Linked DNA regions of Homo sapiens: region 2 is linked to region 1. The links come from fine-mapping of genetic effects on gene expression. Tissue or cell type: whole blood. Region 1 holds a variant in brackets; the other region holds the start of a gene. All regions are shown on one strand. Distances are between the middles of the regions.

Region 1 (8,107 bases):
AGAGCAGGGGCAGAGGAGGAAGAGATGAAGAGAGGACCAACTTCAGAGAGGAACTACCCTCTCTGCTGATAGCAGGAGAGGACAGGACAACCAGCCGCAGAGTGGAACTACCCTCTCTGCTGAGCGCTTCAGAGACCTGAAGAGACATTGGCTGCAGAGAGAAGCAACGGTCCCCAGGGCCTCCTCTCTGCTGAGAGCAGCAAACGTAGGAAGGACCAGTAGCAGATAGAAGCTACCCTCCCCAGGGCCTCCCCTCTGCTGAGAGCTGAACATTCCATGGGATGACCTGCCTACAGAGAGGAGTTACTCACTGCAGGTCTCCTCTGAGCTGTCCTAACATTTAATAAAGCTCATCTTCGTCTTGTTCACCCTTCACTTGTCTGCATACCTCATTCTTCCTGGACACAGGACAAGAACTCTGGCAAAGGTGCCGCCAGCCACAGAGGTTTCTGGCCAGAAAATCAACACCCTGAAGATCCTGTAACACAAGCTCACCCCTTCTGCCATATGAAAAACACAGAAGAAGTTGACAGTCTGCAATGGGAAGAAGGTCCTCACCAGAATCCAATGATGCTGGTATCTTGATCTTGGACTTCCCAGGCTCCAGAACTGAGTAATAAATTTCTGTTATTTATAAGTCACCCAATTTATGGTATTTTGTTGTGGCAGGCCAAACAGACTAAGACAGTGTGCTTTAGTCTATGTATACATAATCCATTAGCTCTTTTCCTTTAAAATCTATTGGGATCACTGTTTTGCTATAGACGAAAACCTAAAGACTGTAGGTTTGTCAAGTGGCCTAGAGACAGTTGAGAGTAAAGTCCATCATAGGTAGTAATCACTACACTAGGAAAGGGCTATAAAGGGGTCAGAATATTCCTGTCCACTGCTAGACCACTATCACGCAGATACTCAGCTAAGGTTGTAGATACCACCTTTGTCTCTATAAATTTCTGATCATGTGTAAACAATAATAAAATTGAGGCCCCAGATCATTTGGACAATTGGGGTTACATCAAGAGAATTCATATGCAAATCATGGTGGTGACATACAGAGGAAAAAGAACCGTCTATTCCATATAACACTTAACAATTTACAGGGACCAGAGTAGATGTTCAATAAATGACACAACTCCTTGTGCACCAGAGTAGTCACCACTCCCCATGTGATTTGGGGACTCTGTGCTTTTGCATAGGTGTGCTCTGAGACTCTAATGTTTTCCTCCACCTTTGTCACCTGATAAACTCTCTATCATCCATCCCAGAACTCCCATATTTGTCCTTCACTCTCTGCTACTCCCACATAACTTTGTACCTATACTTGGCACTAATTTCACCATAGATCTAGGGAAATATTTAGAAACAAAGCAGTGAAGTGGCCAGAGCAGTTGTTTTCAAACTGCAGGAAATCAAGCGAGGACTCCCAATCATTTAAGACACCAGAAGGAAAAGCTTTGGTTCAGTTCCTACCTTAGACACTGAACCTCAGGGGGTTCAAAGCACGTTCCATGTTCTGGAATGCCCTCCTTGAAATTATCTAAACCATTTCCAGTGCCAGGTACCAATCAGCACCAGCAGTGTCATCCTGGCAGGGTGCCCCAGACTGGACAGAACTACTAGCATCCCTGTTCCTTCCATCTGGGAAACTCAATGGCCCTTCACCCAAGAAACCCTGGGACTTGTGGCTGTGGGGTTGTCCTAGGACCTCATGGCTAGGTCCTATTCCAGGAGAATAGCCTGGCAAGTGCATTGCTCTCACTATCTGGAGCAGGATTTCTTTCACAGGATCAAGTCAGATTGGATTGCCAGGATGGTGCTGATAATGCTGATTTGGGTTTATTCAAATTGTTTATATTGACAGAGGCTCACAAAAAAAAAATTTACTCGGGTAGAATTTATTACTGAAGTCATCTGGTCCATGGCCTTTCTTAGTTGGGTTTTAGATTACTGATTCCATCTCCTTACTAGACATAGGTCTATTCAGATTTTCTGTTTTTTCCTGACTCAGTGTTGGTAGGTGATGTGTTTCTAGGAATTTGTCCATTTCATCTAGGTTATTTGATTTGTTGGCATACAATTTTTTACAGTACACTCTTATAATCCTTTTGATTTCTATAAAATCAATAGTAATGTCTCTTCTTTCTTTTTTGATTTTAGTTGAGTTTTTTCTTTCATCAATCTAGCTAAAGGTTTGTCAATCTTGATCTTTTCAAAAAACCAACTCTTTATTTTTCATTAATTTTTTCCTACATATTTTGACTTTTTAGTATAGTCATTTTGACTAGATGAGATGGTATTTCATTGTGATTTCGCTTTGCAGCTCTCTGATGATTAGTGATGTTGACCTTTTAAATGTTTGTGAGCAGCTTGCATGTTTTCTTTTGAGAAGTTTCTGTTCATGCCCTTTGCACATTTTTTAAATGGAGTTGTTTGTTTTTTTCTTGATTCATTTAAGTTCTTTATAAAGTCTGGATATTAGTCTTTTGTTGGATGCATGACTTGCAAACATTTTCTCCCATTCTCTAGGTTGTCTGTTTACTCTGTTGAGACTTTTGCTGTGCAGACGCTGTTTAGTTAAGTCCCATTTGTCTATCTTTGATTTTGTGGCATTTGCTTTTGAGATCTTTATAATAATTTATTTGCCCAGGGCAATGTCTAGAAGAGTATATCCTAGATTTTCTTCTAGAACTTTTATAGTTCGTGGTCTTACATTTCAGTCTTAATTTTGAGTTAATTTTTGTATATGGTGAGAGACAGGGATCCAGTTTCATTCTTCTGCATATGGTTAGCTATTTATTGAATAGGGTGTCCTTTCTCCATTGGTTATTTTGGTGGACTTTATCAAAGATGAGTTGGTTGTAGGTGTGAAGCTTTATTTCAGGGGTCTTTATTCTGTTCCATTGGTCTACGTGTCTATTTTTGTATCAGTACTATGTTTTGGTTACTGTAGCCTTGAAGTATAGCTTGAAATGCAGTAATGTGGTGTAAGGCTCCCTATCCTGTTTTGTTCTTTTTGTTTAGGATTGCCTTGGCTATTCAGGCTCTTTTTTGGTTGCATACAAATTTTAAATCATTTTTTCTAATTCTGTGAAAAATGACATTGGTAATTTCATAGGAATAGCATTGAATCTGTAGATTGTTTTGGGGAGTGTGAACATTTTAATGATACTGATTCTTCCAACACATGAGCATGGAGTGCTTTTGCATTTGTTTGTGTCGTCTATGATTTCTTTCAGCAGTGTTTCATAGTTCTCCTCGTAAAGTTCTTTCACCTCCTTGATTAGCCCCTGCTCTCCAATTCTTCTTGCAGCCTCTGTAACTGGAGTCCTGTCCCCTTTCCTCCCAGCCCAACTTCCTGCACTGTCTGTATCAGGCCTTGCCCTGGATGAACCCTTTTGGCTCACCCACCATACACAGAAGGTGACAGAAATCACATCTCACCCTCAGATTGCTTAAGGAGGGTACGCATACCACTGGGAAACTTGGAACCCATGGGAGCTGCAGTTGAGCCACCTTATAGAGGACCGAGCACTTGTGGACTAGCCTGGGATCCTGGCCACCCGAGTCCAACACCTGCAGCCATGTAAAACTTTCCATGGTTCAAAACCTCAGGCTTCAGGCATACATCTGGAACACAATGCTAAAATTAAATAAATAAATAAATAAAAACGAGCTGAGGACTGAGCCGACCAAATCTCTAGGGCCTAAAACTCACTGGCCTCCCTTAAACCTTGGGTCTAGGTTTACAGGTTAGATGTTTCCACTGAAATCCTTTATACTTTTGACTATAGGGGAAATTCTATCAGACCTGAACTCATGATTTAGGCTATGTTGTTGGCTATCTTTAATGGGAATGGGGGTGGCATTCATATCTCCTTAGAGTTATGCCAGAACAACAGGTTAGTAAGAACTGCAACCCACAAGGGTGGGACAGGAGGCAGAAGAGCTACCTCCTGGGGAGCAAAAAGCATAGAGCGTGATTTGCCGTCTTCGGATACCACTTTGCATTTAGTTCGGAACAGCACTGCTTTCACCCTTTCCCTCTTCTAGATGATAAACCAGCAGCGCAAGAGGGTGCTTGGTTTTTCTTTCAGGATCTAGGGCGCAGTTCGTCAGTGCCTGGTCACATTTCACCTAAATAACCCATTCCCCAACTCCCTGAATGCTCAGGACTCCAGGAG[G/A]GTGGGCAACCCCCATCCGATGGACACCTGCCAAGTCTGGCCTGTCCATACAGCACTCCCCACTTCTCCAGCTCTGCACCAACACCTCACGGGCTTGAGCCACCGCGCCCGGCCGCCCTGCGGCTTTTTAAGGCGCTCCCCAGCCCACGCACGGGCGGAAGTTTTGTCATCTACAGCTTTCAAGTCCTCCATTGCTAAGTCTACAACAGCCTGCGGTTTTGACAGACATTGCTACAGAGACAGGAGCCAACTTTCCCAGAAGGGAGAGAAAGCAGCCTCGGGTCTCCCCGAGATCGGTGGGGTTGCTCTGGCAGCGCCCCACCTCGTCCCGGAGCCCACGGACCACCCCCCCCGGACCCCCGGAATAAGAAACGGAGGCTGGAAGGTTTGGCAGTGGAGCGGGACGAATTTATCTGCCAGCAATTCCCTGGAAACAGGATTCCTTGCAGGCGCTGTGCCAGCGCGGGCCCTTAAGCAACTGAAAGTTAAACGCCCACGTGAATAGCTCTGAGGGATCACGGAGAAGTTCTCGTTTCGTCTGTACCTATTTGTATTTTCTAAGGCGAAAAAAAAGTTATTTAAAGAAAAAGAGAACGAACCTGGCGAGGTCCATGTCTGCGCACTCTTCACCAAGTAGGGGGACCTGAGTTCTTTTCCACTTTCCTGCTCTCCGCGTCCGTGTGCGGCTAGCCCCTCGCTCAGCTGCATTTCTATCGGGCACTCGACTCCCCGGAAGTGGTGGCACCGCACGCGCTGTTATCGACTCTGCGCCTTTGGAAACGGTGTGTCTGCGAATCCAACGACGGGCGCGGTGACTCACGCCTGTAATCCCAGCACTTTGGGAGGCTGAGGAGGGTGGATCACCAGCTTAGGAGATAGAGACCATCCTGGCTAACATGGTGAAAACCCGTCTCTACTAAAAATACAAAAAAATTAGCCGGGCATGGTAGCGGGCGCCTGTAGTCCCAGCTACTCGGGAGGCTGAGGCAGGAGAATGGCGTGAACCCCGGAGGCGCAGCTTGCAGTGAGCCGAGATCGTGCCACTACGCTCCAGCCTGGGCGACAGAGCAAGACTCCGTCTCAAAAAAAAATTGACGAAGGACCAAACCCCTAAAGGGGTGACATTCCAGCTTGACTCGTATCCCAGAGCAGCCCTGCTGTCCCCTTGCTTGAAAGCGCAGTTGACGCCAGAAACCGGGGGAGAGCAGCTACTAATGCACAGGGGAGGAGGGAGGTGCGAGGAGCGGGTTGCTCTCAGAGAGACAGAGTTGAACAACTACCCCTTGCGGTGTAGGAAGTATCTTGCGGCCTTCTAGGCCAATTAGTTGGCTTCGAACAGTCCAGTGGCTCCTCTAACTGGATACAGCCCTCCTGTCACGTTGCTTTCGTGGGGCCCTTGTTATGGTAATTACGATAATACACGTTTCTCCAGCCCACACGTCTAAGAACTGTTGCGAGAACCCATACTTTTTGAAATGCACACAGGCCAAAATGACTCACTAACTGAGGAGTTCACCAGTCTGAATTGCCCTTTCTCCCTAGCTCCATCCCACTCCGGACTCAATTAAGGGCCTGCCGTTGGAAGTCCCATCTAGAATCTTAAGGTACAGGCAGAGTACTTCTTCACACTGAATGAGCACATGCATTGAAAGTATATAGCTGGCCGGGCGCGGTGGCTCAGGACTGTAATCCCAGCACTTTGGGAGGCAGAGGCGGGCGGATCACCTGAGGTCAGGAGTTTGAGACCAGCCTGGCCAACATGAAGAAATCCCGTCTCTACTAAAAATACAAAAATTAGCCGGGCGTGGTGGCACGCGCCTGTAATCCCAGCTACTCGGGAGGCTGAGGCAATAGAGTCTCTTGAACCGGGGAGGCGGAAGTTGCAGTGAGCCCAGATCCCGCCACTGCACTCCAGCCTAGGCGACAGAGCGAGACTTTGCCTCAAAAACAAAACAAAACAAAAGTACATAGCCGTGCTTTTCTTCATTTCATCTGATTCTCACGCCAGCTCTAAGGAAACAGCTTCACTGAAGTGAGGAAACTCTTCTTCAGTCACTGACTTACAAAATGGTAGTGCAGGGATTTTCCCAGACCACCAAGAAGGCATCCAAGAAGTAAGCAAAAAAGATTACGACGTCGTTCCTATACCGTGGCAGTGGCTCACGCCTATTATCCCAGCACTTTGAGCGGAGGAGACAGGAAGGTCGCTTGACCCCAGGACTTCAGGACTAGCCTGGCAATATAAGGAGACGTCATCTCTACAAATAATTTTTTAAAATAACCGGGCGTGGTGGCAGTGCACTTGTGGTCCCAGCTACTAAGGAGGCTATGGTGGGAGGATCACTTGAACTTGGGCTGTTGAGGCTGCAGTGAGCCGTGATCAGGCTACTGCACTCCAGCCTGAGCGACAGAGTGAAACCCTGTCCGTATATATATGTACATATATATATGTAAAATGAATGCAGCAATATACCCCCCAAAATTATATTAAGACCAACAGAGGTTTACTCTCGGTATCCAAGAGTGATTTAGATGTGAAAATCAATCGGCCTATTCACTGCATTAATGAAAAAAGGAACATCACATGATCATTTCAATAGATACCGAAAAAGCATTTGACTCTTGAAAGTTATCCTCAGAAAGAATACATATGACGTCTGCACTTATTCCATAGATCAAAACAAGTCACCTTGCCAAGCCTAATATCAATGGGGCAGAAAACTGTCATCTACTTCCGGAGAGGAACACCAACCTTGTGGAATATTATGACAGTTTATACAGCACAGCATCTTATGCTCCAAGTGGGACAAAAATCCCACAACCAGTCATGATTTTTAAAAAGAACCCTTAGCAAATTGGGAATAGAAAGAAATATCCGACATCCAGATCCTCACCACGAACACTTCCACCACCTCCTGTTCCCTCTCCCTCCAAAGCGGCGCCGTAGCCACCGGCCCCCTCCTCCCCAGTGCCCCAGGCGCGGAGCAGACCGCCGGCAACCTCCTCTACACCACGCCGCAGGGACCCTCCAGCAGAGCCGGGCTGCTGCAGCCACCAGCGCTGGGACGAGGCGGCAGTGGCCCTCTGGCAAAGTGAAGTCTGGAGCTAGGAGAAAGCGGTCATCAGTACCTCTCGGATGGTTCAAAAACCCCCAAGGGCAAAGGAAGAGCTGCACTAAGAAGTCCAGATACTCCAAAAACTCCAAAATCTACCTCAGAAAAAACACGGTACGATAGTCTCTTGATCTGCTCACCAAGAAGTTCATTCAGCTCCTGAACCAGTCACCCGATGGGGTCTTGGTTTTGAACAAGGCAGCGGAAGTGCTAAAAGTGCAAAATAGAAGGATTTATGATATCACCAAAGCTCTGAAAGGCATCCATCTCATTAAGAAGAAGTCTAAAAATAACGTCCAGTGGATGGGTTGCAGTCTGTCTGCGGATGGGGGCATGCTGACCCAGTGTCAAGGCCTGTCAAAAGAAATGACCAAGCTCACTCAGGAAGAGAAGAAATTAGATGAACTGATCCCAAGCTGCACGCTGGACCTCAAACTATTAACCGAGGATTCAGATCGTCAAAGGTTAGCTTACGTTACATATCAACATATTCGAAAAATTAGTGGCCTTAAAGACCAAACTGTTATAGTTGTGAAAGCCCCTCCAGAAATAAGACTTGAGTGCCTGACTCAATAAGAGAGCCTACAAATACATTTGGCAGGTACCCAAGGGCACATTGAGGTTTACTTATGTCCAGAAGAGACTGAAACACAGTCCAATGACAACAAACAACCAAGACCCCAATGGGAATATCCTTAAACCCACCTCGTTGGTTTCAACCAACTCAGGACATAGCGATTGCTCAATTTCTATGGGAAACCTTTCTCCTCCGGCCTCCCCAGCCAACCTCTTACAGCAGACTGCGGACCAAAT
Region 2 (8,107 bases), 55 kb before region 1:
TACTGCCCAAAACGAAAATATACTATTTGAATCTTGCTTTTCCATGTATCAATATAGTATATACAACAAGTTTTGCAAAAATAATAATTAGCTATTCTTTAAAAACCTTATTAACTGCATAATTTCATACATGGTATTAATGTACCATTATTTAACTATTACCTTACAACTGAACATTGAAGTTGCTTTCAATCATTCGATATAATTATACTAGAATCTTGACTCAGTTATTTCAATGTTTGGGTATGCTAATCACACAGTCTAATTTTCATTGAGTCTAAGAGTGCCCTGGCAAAGCACTTCAATTATATATACAGATACGGTTCAGATATATACAAAGATGGTTAAATCGAGTATGGGAGGCCAGAACATGTAGACAGAAAAGAAGCCAGATTTCAGGATATAAGAAATGGAACCTTGAAGGGGAAAAATTATGTAAGAGAAGAAAGAGTCTGAATCTGTGGAAATAAAGGTTCATGGTGAAACATAAGGTTATATTTGAACCTGTGCCTTAGGTACATAATTAAGCTGAAATTATGTAAGTATATAGAGTGTATATATGTACACACAGAGAGAGACAGAAGTTTGTAAAAGTTAAATTACTGTATCAAGTGACAAAAACTTCAAAGATTTTGATATATATTATCAAATACTTTCCCAAATAATTGTATCAGAATTATCGCTAGCAAATTTATCTTAGTGGTGATTACAGCACTTTGCCTTGAACCTTTTGGGGGGAAGAGGATATGGTATAAAAGCTACTGGAAAGCATCTTAGTGGGGATTACAGAACTTTGGCCTGTACCTTTTGCGGGGAAGAGGATGTGGTCTAAAAGCTGTTAGAAAGCATCTTAGTGGGGATTACAGAACTTTTCCCCTGTAATTTTTGGGGGTAAGAGGATGTGGTCTAAAAGCTATTAGAAAGCAGCATCTTTCCCTCAGTGTTTCCTGAAAACTCAGAGAGAACAAAGAGAGGCTGCCTTCTAAGAGATATTGGACCTAGCATTCATTCAAATAGGCTCCCTGGGCCTGGGTCCATAGAAGAAAGCATTTGCATATGACCCAGGGAGATTCCAAAAAAAGAGAACCTAAGTGGGGAGGACCTGACTCCTGGTAGTTGAACAAGAGTGAAGCCAGGTAAGCACAATCATTGAAGTTTAAATTTAAAACTCAATAGTAGTCTCAATGTGGCATAATTATGCTAGAAAGCAGAGGAAGATGTATATCTCTGCCATGCTGAGCTTTCTCCTTAGTATTATAGCACAATTAGTGTTCTTTAGACCCAATTTCTTCATATTTCTTGCACATGAGGCTGCCCCAAAGGCAAGTCCACCTTCCCTGTTGACCAGACAGAAGAGATTCTCCATCTCTACCCACAAAGGCTGCAGGAGAATCAGTTCCACTTCTACCCAGGCGCACAGCCCCAGCCCTACAATTTTCTGGTAATGCCTCACCAAGCAGCCTCTGCTCTGCTCCCCGATTCTTTTTTGCAGCCTCTCTAACTAGAGTCTTGTCCCCTTTCCTCTTAGCCCACCTTTCTGCACTGTCTACATCAGGCTGGGCTCTGTGTAAACTTTTTTGCCTAACCCACCATACACAGAAGGGGACAGAAATCACATCTCACCCTCAGATTGATTAAGGAGGGTGCTCATACCACTGAGAAACTTGGAACCCATGGGAGCTGCAGTTGAGCCACCTTATAGAGGACCCAGCGCTTGTGAACTAGCCTGGGATCCCGGTCACCCCAGTCCAACATCTGCAGCTGTGTAAAACTTTCCATAGTTGAAAATCACTGCCTTCAAGCATACATCTGGGACAAAACCCTTAAAAAATGAGCTGGGGATTGAGCTTACCAAATCCCTAGGGCCTAAAACTTACTGGCCTCCCTTAAACCTTGGGTCTAGGTTTACAGGTTAGATGTTTCCACTGAAATCCTTTATACTTTTGACTATAGGGGAAATTCTATCAGACCTGAACTCACTATTTAGGCTTTGTTGTTGGCTATCTTTAATGGGAAAGGAGACAGCATTCAGATCTCCTTAGAGTTATGTCAGAACAGCAGGTTAGTAGGAACTGCCCACAGGGTGGGACAGAAGTTGTAAGAGCTACCTCCTGGGAAACAAAAATCATGCAACACTCTTTGCCCTCCTAGGATGTCACTTTGCATTTAGTTCAGGACAGCACTGCTCTCATCCTTCCCGCCTTCTAGATAATAAACCAGCAGGGCATGAGGGTGCTTGGTTTTTCTTTTAGGATCTAGCAATGCAGTTCATCAGTGCCTGGTCGCATTTCACCTAAAGAACCTATTCCCCAACTCCCTGCATGTTCAGGACTCCAGGAGGATGGATAACCCTGGGAGGTCTGGACACCCACCAAGCCTGGCCTGACCATAGAGCACTCTGCCCTCCCTGCCTCTCTAGCTCTGCTTGAACACTGCAGATCCCTGGCTCACTGGCCCCACAGCTCTTTAAATTTTCTGGTAATGCTTTAAATTTTCTGGGCTGCTCCCCAGCCCATGCAGGAGCAAAAGTTCCACCCGACCTATAGCTTCCAAGTCCACCATTCTGAAGTCCTCAACAGCCTGCAGTTTATTAGAAGTTGCTACAGAGACAGGAAAGTGTTACCGGTGGAGGGTGTCCTGCTCACTGAAACATTCTGTTTGCAGGAGAAAAACAAAAACTTGGTCTGTTCTAGGATCTATGTGTTTCCTTAAAGTCTTAGAATGAGCAACTCCATTTTGGTTTGGTTTGGTCTGTTGGGGCCATGAGCTCAGTCCAAAACACTGGCCTTTCACAATTTTGTTTTTTAAAATTCCCCCTTTTTGTTCAGGTTCTCACTTAGGTGAGAATGTAACCAAAACGTAAGGCCTTAGCGCCGCTCTCAGTTACCATCATTTTGGGTTTCCAGTCTCAGCACACCATCCATAGGTTACAGTGTCCTCATGGTCGCATATTTGTTTCACTTCTCATCATTCCAGTTGAAGAGAGACCATTTGACATTCTAGAGATGGCTGCATGCAAACATCGAAAACCTTTGAGAGAATACAGTGCACCAGGGAGCCTATTATTATGATGACTATTGGGAGGATAATACCAAGAGTTTGGAGGATGCTCCTTGCCCAGGGTTCCCATAAACCAAACCAGTTAAAATTAAATAGATCAAATAATGAACTAAATAAAGAATCTACCAACTTAAGTAAACAATCTCCTCATTAATCCCCTACAACTGAATCTCTTAATCTTCATTTAATGTATTTCTCCATAGACTCTAAGTGCCAGCAGCTGCACAGATACTTCTCTGTTCAGCCAATTCTATCATAACTTTCACAAAAGAATTTAAAGTCTGTTGTGTAACTATGGCCTTTACAGTAGATGTTCTGAGAACATCTATCCTATGGGTTCTAGGTTGTGAAGGGGTTGATTGTTCTCAGTGAACCATAAAAAGCTTTCTTTACCTGGTGAAAATACACTGTAGCATAATCATGGGAAAAGCTTTTATACAACAAGAAAACATGCATTGAAAGTGACATTGAATAAAATCCCTTTGTAAATGTTTAAATGGCCCATCGGGTAGCCAAATGTACCTGAAGCTTTGATTGTCTTCCCAGGAATATGGATTTGAGAAACCAAACATTGGTTATAAACAACTTTAGCAATTTATAAGTCAGCGGTTTCCATGGCAGTTTGATTTTTAAAGGTCAAACTTCCTCGCACTTCAAAGAACGCTGAGGCCAAACAGCACCAAAGGAGAACATCACACTTTAACCCGACACAACCCTGCTTAGAACAGCAGCACAAGAGCCTGCATACATGCAACTCCATCCCACTTTACCATTCAACAGCAAACTCCAGATTCCAAACAATATTGAGGCCAAACACTACTGCAACCGGAAGAGAAAATTCTAAGGAGGGCTTAGTACTAGGCCTAAGAACCTCTACCAAAGGAACCCCCTTGGAGAGGCTGAGGTCCAAAGGATCCTCCAGAGCATCCCCCTTTAGGGTCCAATCTTAGAGCGTCAGACGTCTCTGACCTTAGGTGGTCACCAGTGCCACTTTACATGTTTTCCCTCCAGAGGGGATGGCCTACTGTGAGCTTTCCTTTTGTCTCTGGATGAAGGCCTTGACTTCTAGCATCCTTATAATTTGATAAGGCCATGCTTTCCCATGGTTCCCATTCCACTAGAGTGATAGTCATGAACTTTAATGATATGAAATGGAGGCTAGGTGGGTTTCTTTTAACCTTAGCCAGTAGAGTAGGGGAAGGGAAGAATTTAACATAAGGAAAGAAGGTTTAAGTCACCTGAAACACGTGTGAGTTCGCCCTGGAGAAGCTGCGTCACACATAGGGATCAGGGACCACAACCAGAAAAGACAGAAAAGAGCCCTTCCCGCTTCTGGGCAGGGCAACTATCCCCATTCACTCCTTGGCCTTCAAGGCAGCACTGGAGAGTAGCCCCCGGCCAGAAACCTGCAGTCGCCTCCGTGTCTAGGCGCTACCCACCAAGGATCCCACGTTGGAAAGGAAAAGAGAAAGAGAGAGATTTACCTGTATGGAGCAGAAAGGAAAAGGGAAAGGAGAAAAATAAATCCCAGACTTTGGGCTTACCTCCTGGTTGGCTTGCCAAAATATGTTACCAGTGAAGAGTGTCCAGGTTCTTGGCGTGTTGAACAAAGAACTGGACAAACACACAAACAAAGCAAGGAAAGAATGAAGCAACAAAAGCAGAGATTTATTGAAAACGAAAGTGCACTCCACAGGGTGGGAGCAGGCCCGAGGATAGCGGCTCAAGAGCCCGGTTTCAGAATTTTCTGGGGTTTAAGTACCCTCTAAAGTTTTCCCACTGGTTACTTGGTGTGCACACAATGTAAATGAAATAGGAGCCCGAGATCAGTCTGAATGGTTGCAGAAAGCGATCAATGGGAGGCTGAAGTGAAGTTACAAAGTTATGCCCTATGAAAACATCTGATTGGACGCAGAAAGCGAAGTTACAAAGTTACATTCCTATGCACATGAAGACTTGGCCCTGGAGACCAGTCTGATTGGTTGCGGGAGGGGACCAATCAGAGGTATTTTCAGTTTTTCATCTGCCATGTAGAAAAGGAGGGGCTACAAAGGAAGTTTGTGGAAAGTTGGGATTTTCCTCCAGACCCTTATTCTCCTGCTTCAGAAGGGAGAGAAAGCAGACCGGGATGGGGGTGCGGGGATCTTCCCGGGAGTGGTGGGGTTGTGTTACCAGTGCCCCACCTCCTCCCGAGCCAGCAGACTCCCCAGAAATGAAAAACTAAGGCTGGAAGGTTTAGCGATGGAGCAGGACCAACTTACCAGCTCGCGGTGCTCCCTAGAAGCTGGATTCTTCGCAGGTGCGAGCACACCCCAGATGCCAGCGTGGACCCTTGAGCAACTGGAAGTTAAAAACCCACGAAAACAGCTCTGAGTGATCTCTAGGGAGCTCTCGTTTCTTTTTCACCCATGTGTATTTTTTAAGACAAAAAGAAAAAAGGTAATTTAAAGAAAACAAAGAACAAAGGAACTTGGCGAGGCCCAGGCTACAGTCCGCGGGCTCACTCTCCACAGAGTAAAAAGAACGCGAATCCTTTTCTGTTTTCCGGCCCTCCCCATCCTGGGCTGCGGCTCCACACTTCCCCAGCGTGGCCTGCATTTCTATTGGGCAGCTGGCGCTCCGGAAGTGTCCGCACTCTTTATTATCGACTCTGCGCCTTTGGGCAATTGTCACTATTTTGGTTCATCAAAATTGAAGAAATACCAGGCATTCTTACCATGCCCCTAAAGGGGTGACTCAACCTTTCCAGCTGTACTCGCATTCCCAGAGCAGCACTGCTGCCCCCTTGCTTAAAAGCACGGTTGCCCCCAGGAACCAGGCCAGGGCAGCTGTGGATGGACAGGAGAGGACAAAGGTGCAAGGAGCGGATTGCTCCAGGACAGACAGATTCAAATACCTACCCCTGGCAGTGTAGGGAGCATCTTGGGGCCATTTGGGAGATTCCTTTATTGGGATGCTCCAAAGGCTAGTCTGGCCGGATACAGTCCTCCTGCCACTTTGCTTTCCTTTAGCCCCCTTATTATGATAATTATGGTAATACATGTTTTTCCTGCTAACTTGTCTAAGAATTGGTGTCTCAGTACATAGCTTTTGAAATGCACACAGGCCACGATGACTCATCACAGGGGAATGTGCAAGTCTGAGTTGCTCCTTCTCCGCAAGCTCCACCTACCCCACTCTGGACTGCATTAACTGCCTACTGCCTATTCTAAAATCTTAAGGTACCTAGGAAGAGTACCTATTCACATTAAATAACGTATATATTGAAAGCACATAGCTGCGCTTTTCTTCTTCTCATCTGATCCAGACGCCAGCTCTATGGATACAGTCTCACCGAAGTTAAAAAACTATTCTTCAGTCATTGGCTTAGAAAATGCTAGTGCCGGCTGGGAGCAGTGGCTCATGCCCATAATTCCAGGACTTTGGGAGGCCGAGGTGGGTGGATCACCTGAAGTCAAGAGTTCGAGACCAGCCCAGCCAACGTAGTGAAACCCCCGTCTCCACTAAAAATACAAAAAAAATTAGCCGGGCGTGGTGGCAGACCCCTGTAATCCCAGCTACTAGGGAGGCAGAGGCAGGAGAATCAGTTGAACCTGGGAAGCGGAGGTTGCAGTGTGCTGAGATCATGCCACTGCACTGCAGCCTGGGCAACAAGAGCAAAACTCTGTCTCGGGGAAAAAAAAGGAAAGAAGAAAGAAAGAAAGAAAGAGAGAGAGAGAGAAAGGAAGGAAGGAAGGAAGGAAGGAAGGAAGGAAGGAAGGAAGGGAAAGAAAGAAAGAAAGAAAGAAAGAAAGAGGAAGGAAGGAAGGAAAGGAAGGAAGGAAGGAAGGAAGGAAGGAAGGGAGAGAAGAGAGAAAGGAAGGGAGGGAGGGAGGGAAAGAAAAAAAGAAAGAAGAGAGAGAGAGAGAAAGAAAAAGAAAGAAAGAAAGAGAAAGAAACAAAGAAAAAAAGCTAGCGCAGGCCGGGTGCGGTGGCTCACGTCTATAATCCCAGCACTTTGGGAGGCCGAAGTGGGTGGATTGCCTGAGCTCAGGAGTTGGAGACCAGCCAGGGCAATATGGTGAGAGGGCATAGTCGTGCGCGCCTTGGTAGTCCCAACTACTGTGGTGGACTGGGGAGGGTGTGGGGGCGCTGAGGCATGAGAATCGCTTGGATGGAGGCAGAGGTTGCAGTGAGCCAAGATCACACGGCTGCACTCCATCCTGAAAGACAGAGCAAGGGATTCTATCTCAAAAAAAGAAAAAGAAAAAAAAGAAAAGAAAAGAAAAAGAAAATGCTAGTGCAGGGATTTTCCCAGAGCACCAGGATGGCTTCCAAGGCAGAAACAAAAGACATTAAGAAGTTGTTCCCATGGGAATGTGTGTGGCAGGCATGACATATCAGATCAACTTGGAATAGAAAATGCATATCCCAAAAGGCCCCTCAAAAGTGAGCAGAGTAAAAACATTCACAGAACTTTTAAATTATGTTTTTATTAACTATTGAGTAGAAACAATATTTATAGAATACATATAAGGTATAAAGAACAAAAGTATGAACATCTGTGAACCCCTTACACGGCTAAAGAATATTAACAATAAGCCTCTCCTCAGAGGTAAAACACCATATCAAAGTTTACATTGAACCTTGTGTTGCTATTCTTTATAGTGTTTTGCGGGGAGGGGGTTGGGGGGTTGTTCTGGTTGTTTTTAGCCCACTGCAGCCTTCACCTCCTGGGCTCCAGTGATCCTCTCACCTCAGCCTCCCAGTAGCTGGGACTACAGGCACACACCACCAAACCCAGCTAATTTTTAAATTTTATTTCATTTTATTTTATTTTTTGTAGAGCCAGGATCTTGCTATGTTGCCAAGGCTTGTCTCTAACCCCTGGGCTCAAGTGATTCTCCTGCCTTGGCCTCTGGAAGTGCTGAGATTACAGGTGTGAGCCACCATGCTGGCTTGCTGTTTGTTCATGCTGTAAATTCCCTTTGTTGATTTCCAAAAGTGTTTTTATACTTCTAAGTTGCTGAGAGTCCTTATTATGAATGGATGTTGAACTTTATCAAAA

Evidence for each region. PIP is the estimated chance that this variant, and not a neighbour inherited with it, causes the effect.
Region 2: it holds the start of SLFN12, and the variant in region 1 is fine-mapped to the expression of SLFN12 in whole blood (TOPMed, PIP above 0.99).

Annotation. Positions count from the first base shown.
Region 1 is chr17:35,482,946-35,491,052 of GRCh38, forward strand. All of the region lies in intron 2 of SLFN12L (schlafen family member 12 like), which reads right to left. It also overlaps the pseudogene E2F3P1. Among named protein-coding and RNA genes, the nearest start is that of SLFN13, 38 kb to the left of the region's middle. RefSeq lists an enhancer at 4,231-4,510 and a silencer at 7,025-7,319. The variant G/A (reference allele first, on the strand shown) is at 4,182.
Region 2 is chr17:35,427,584-35,435,690 of GRCh38, forward strand. It overlaps SLFN12 (schlafen family member 12), which reads right to left and starts at 4,917. Exons shown (of 4, transcript NM_018042.5): 1 at 4,605-4,917. SLFN13 (schlafen family member 13) reads right to left here. Exons shown (of 6, transcript NM_144682.6): 6 at 7,513-8,107. RefSeq lists enhancers at 1,436-1,495, 4,827-5,552, 4,921-6,120, 5,049-5,268, 6,089-6,328 and 1 more.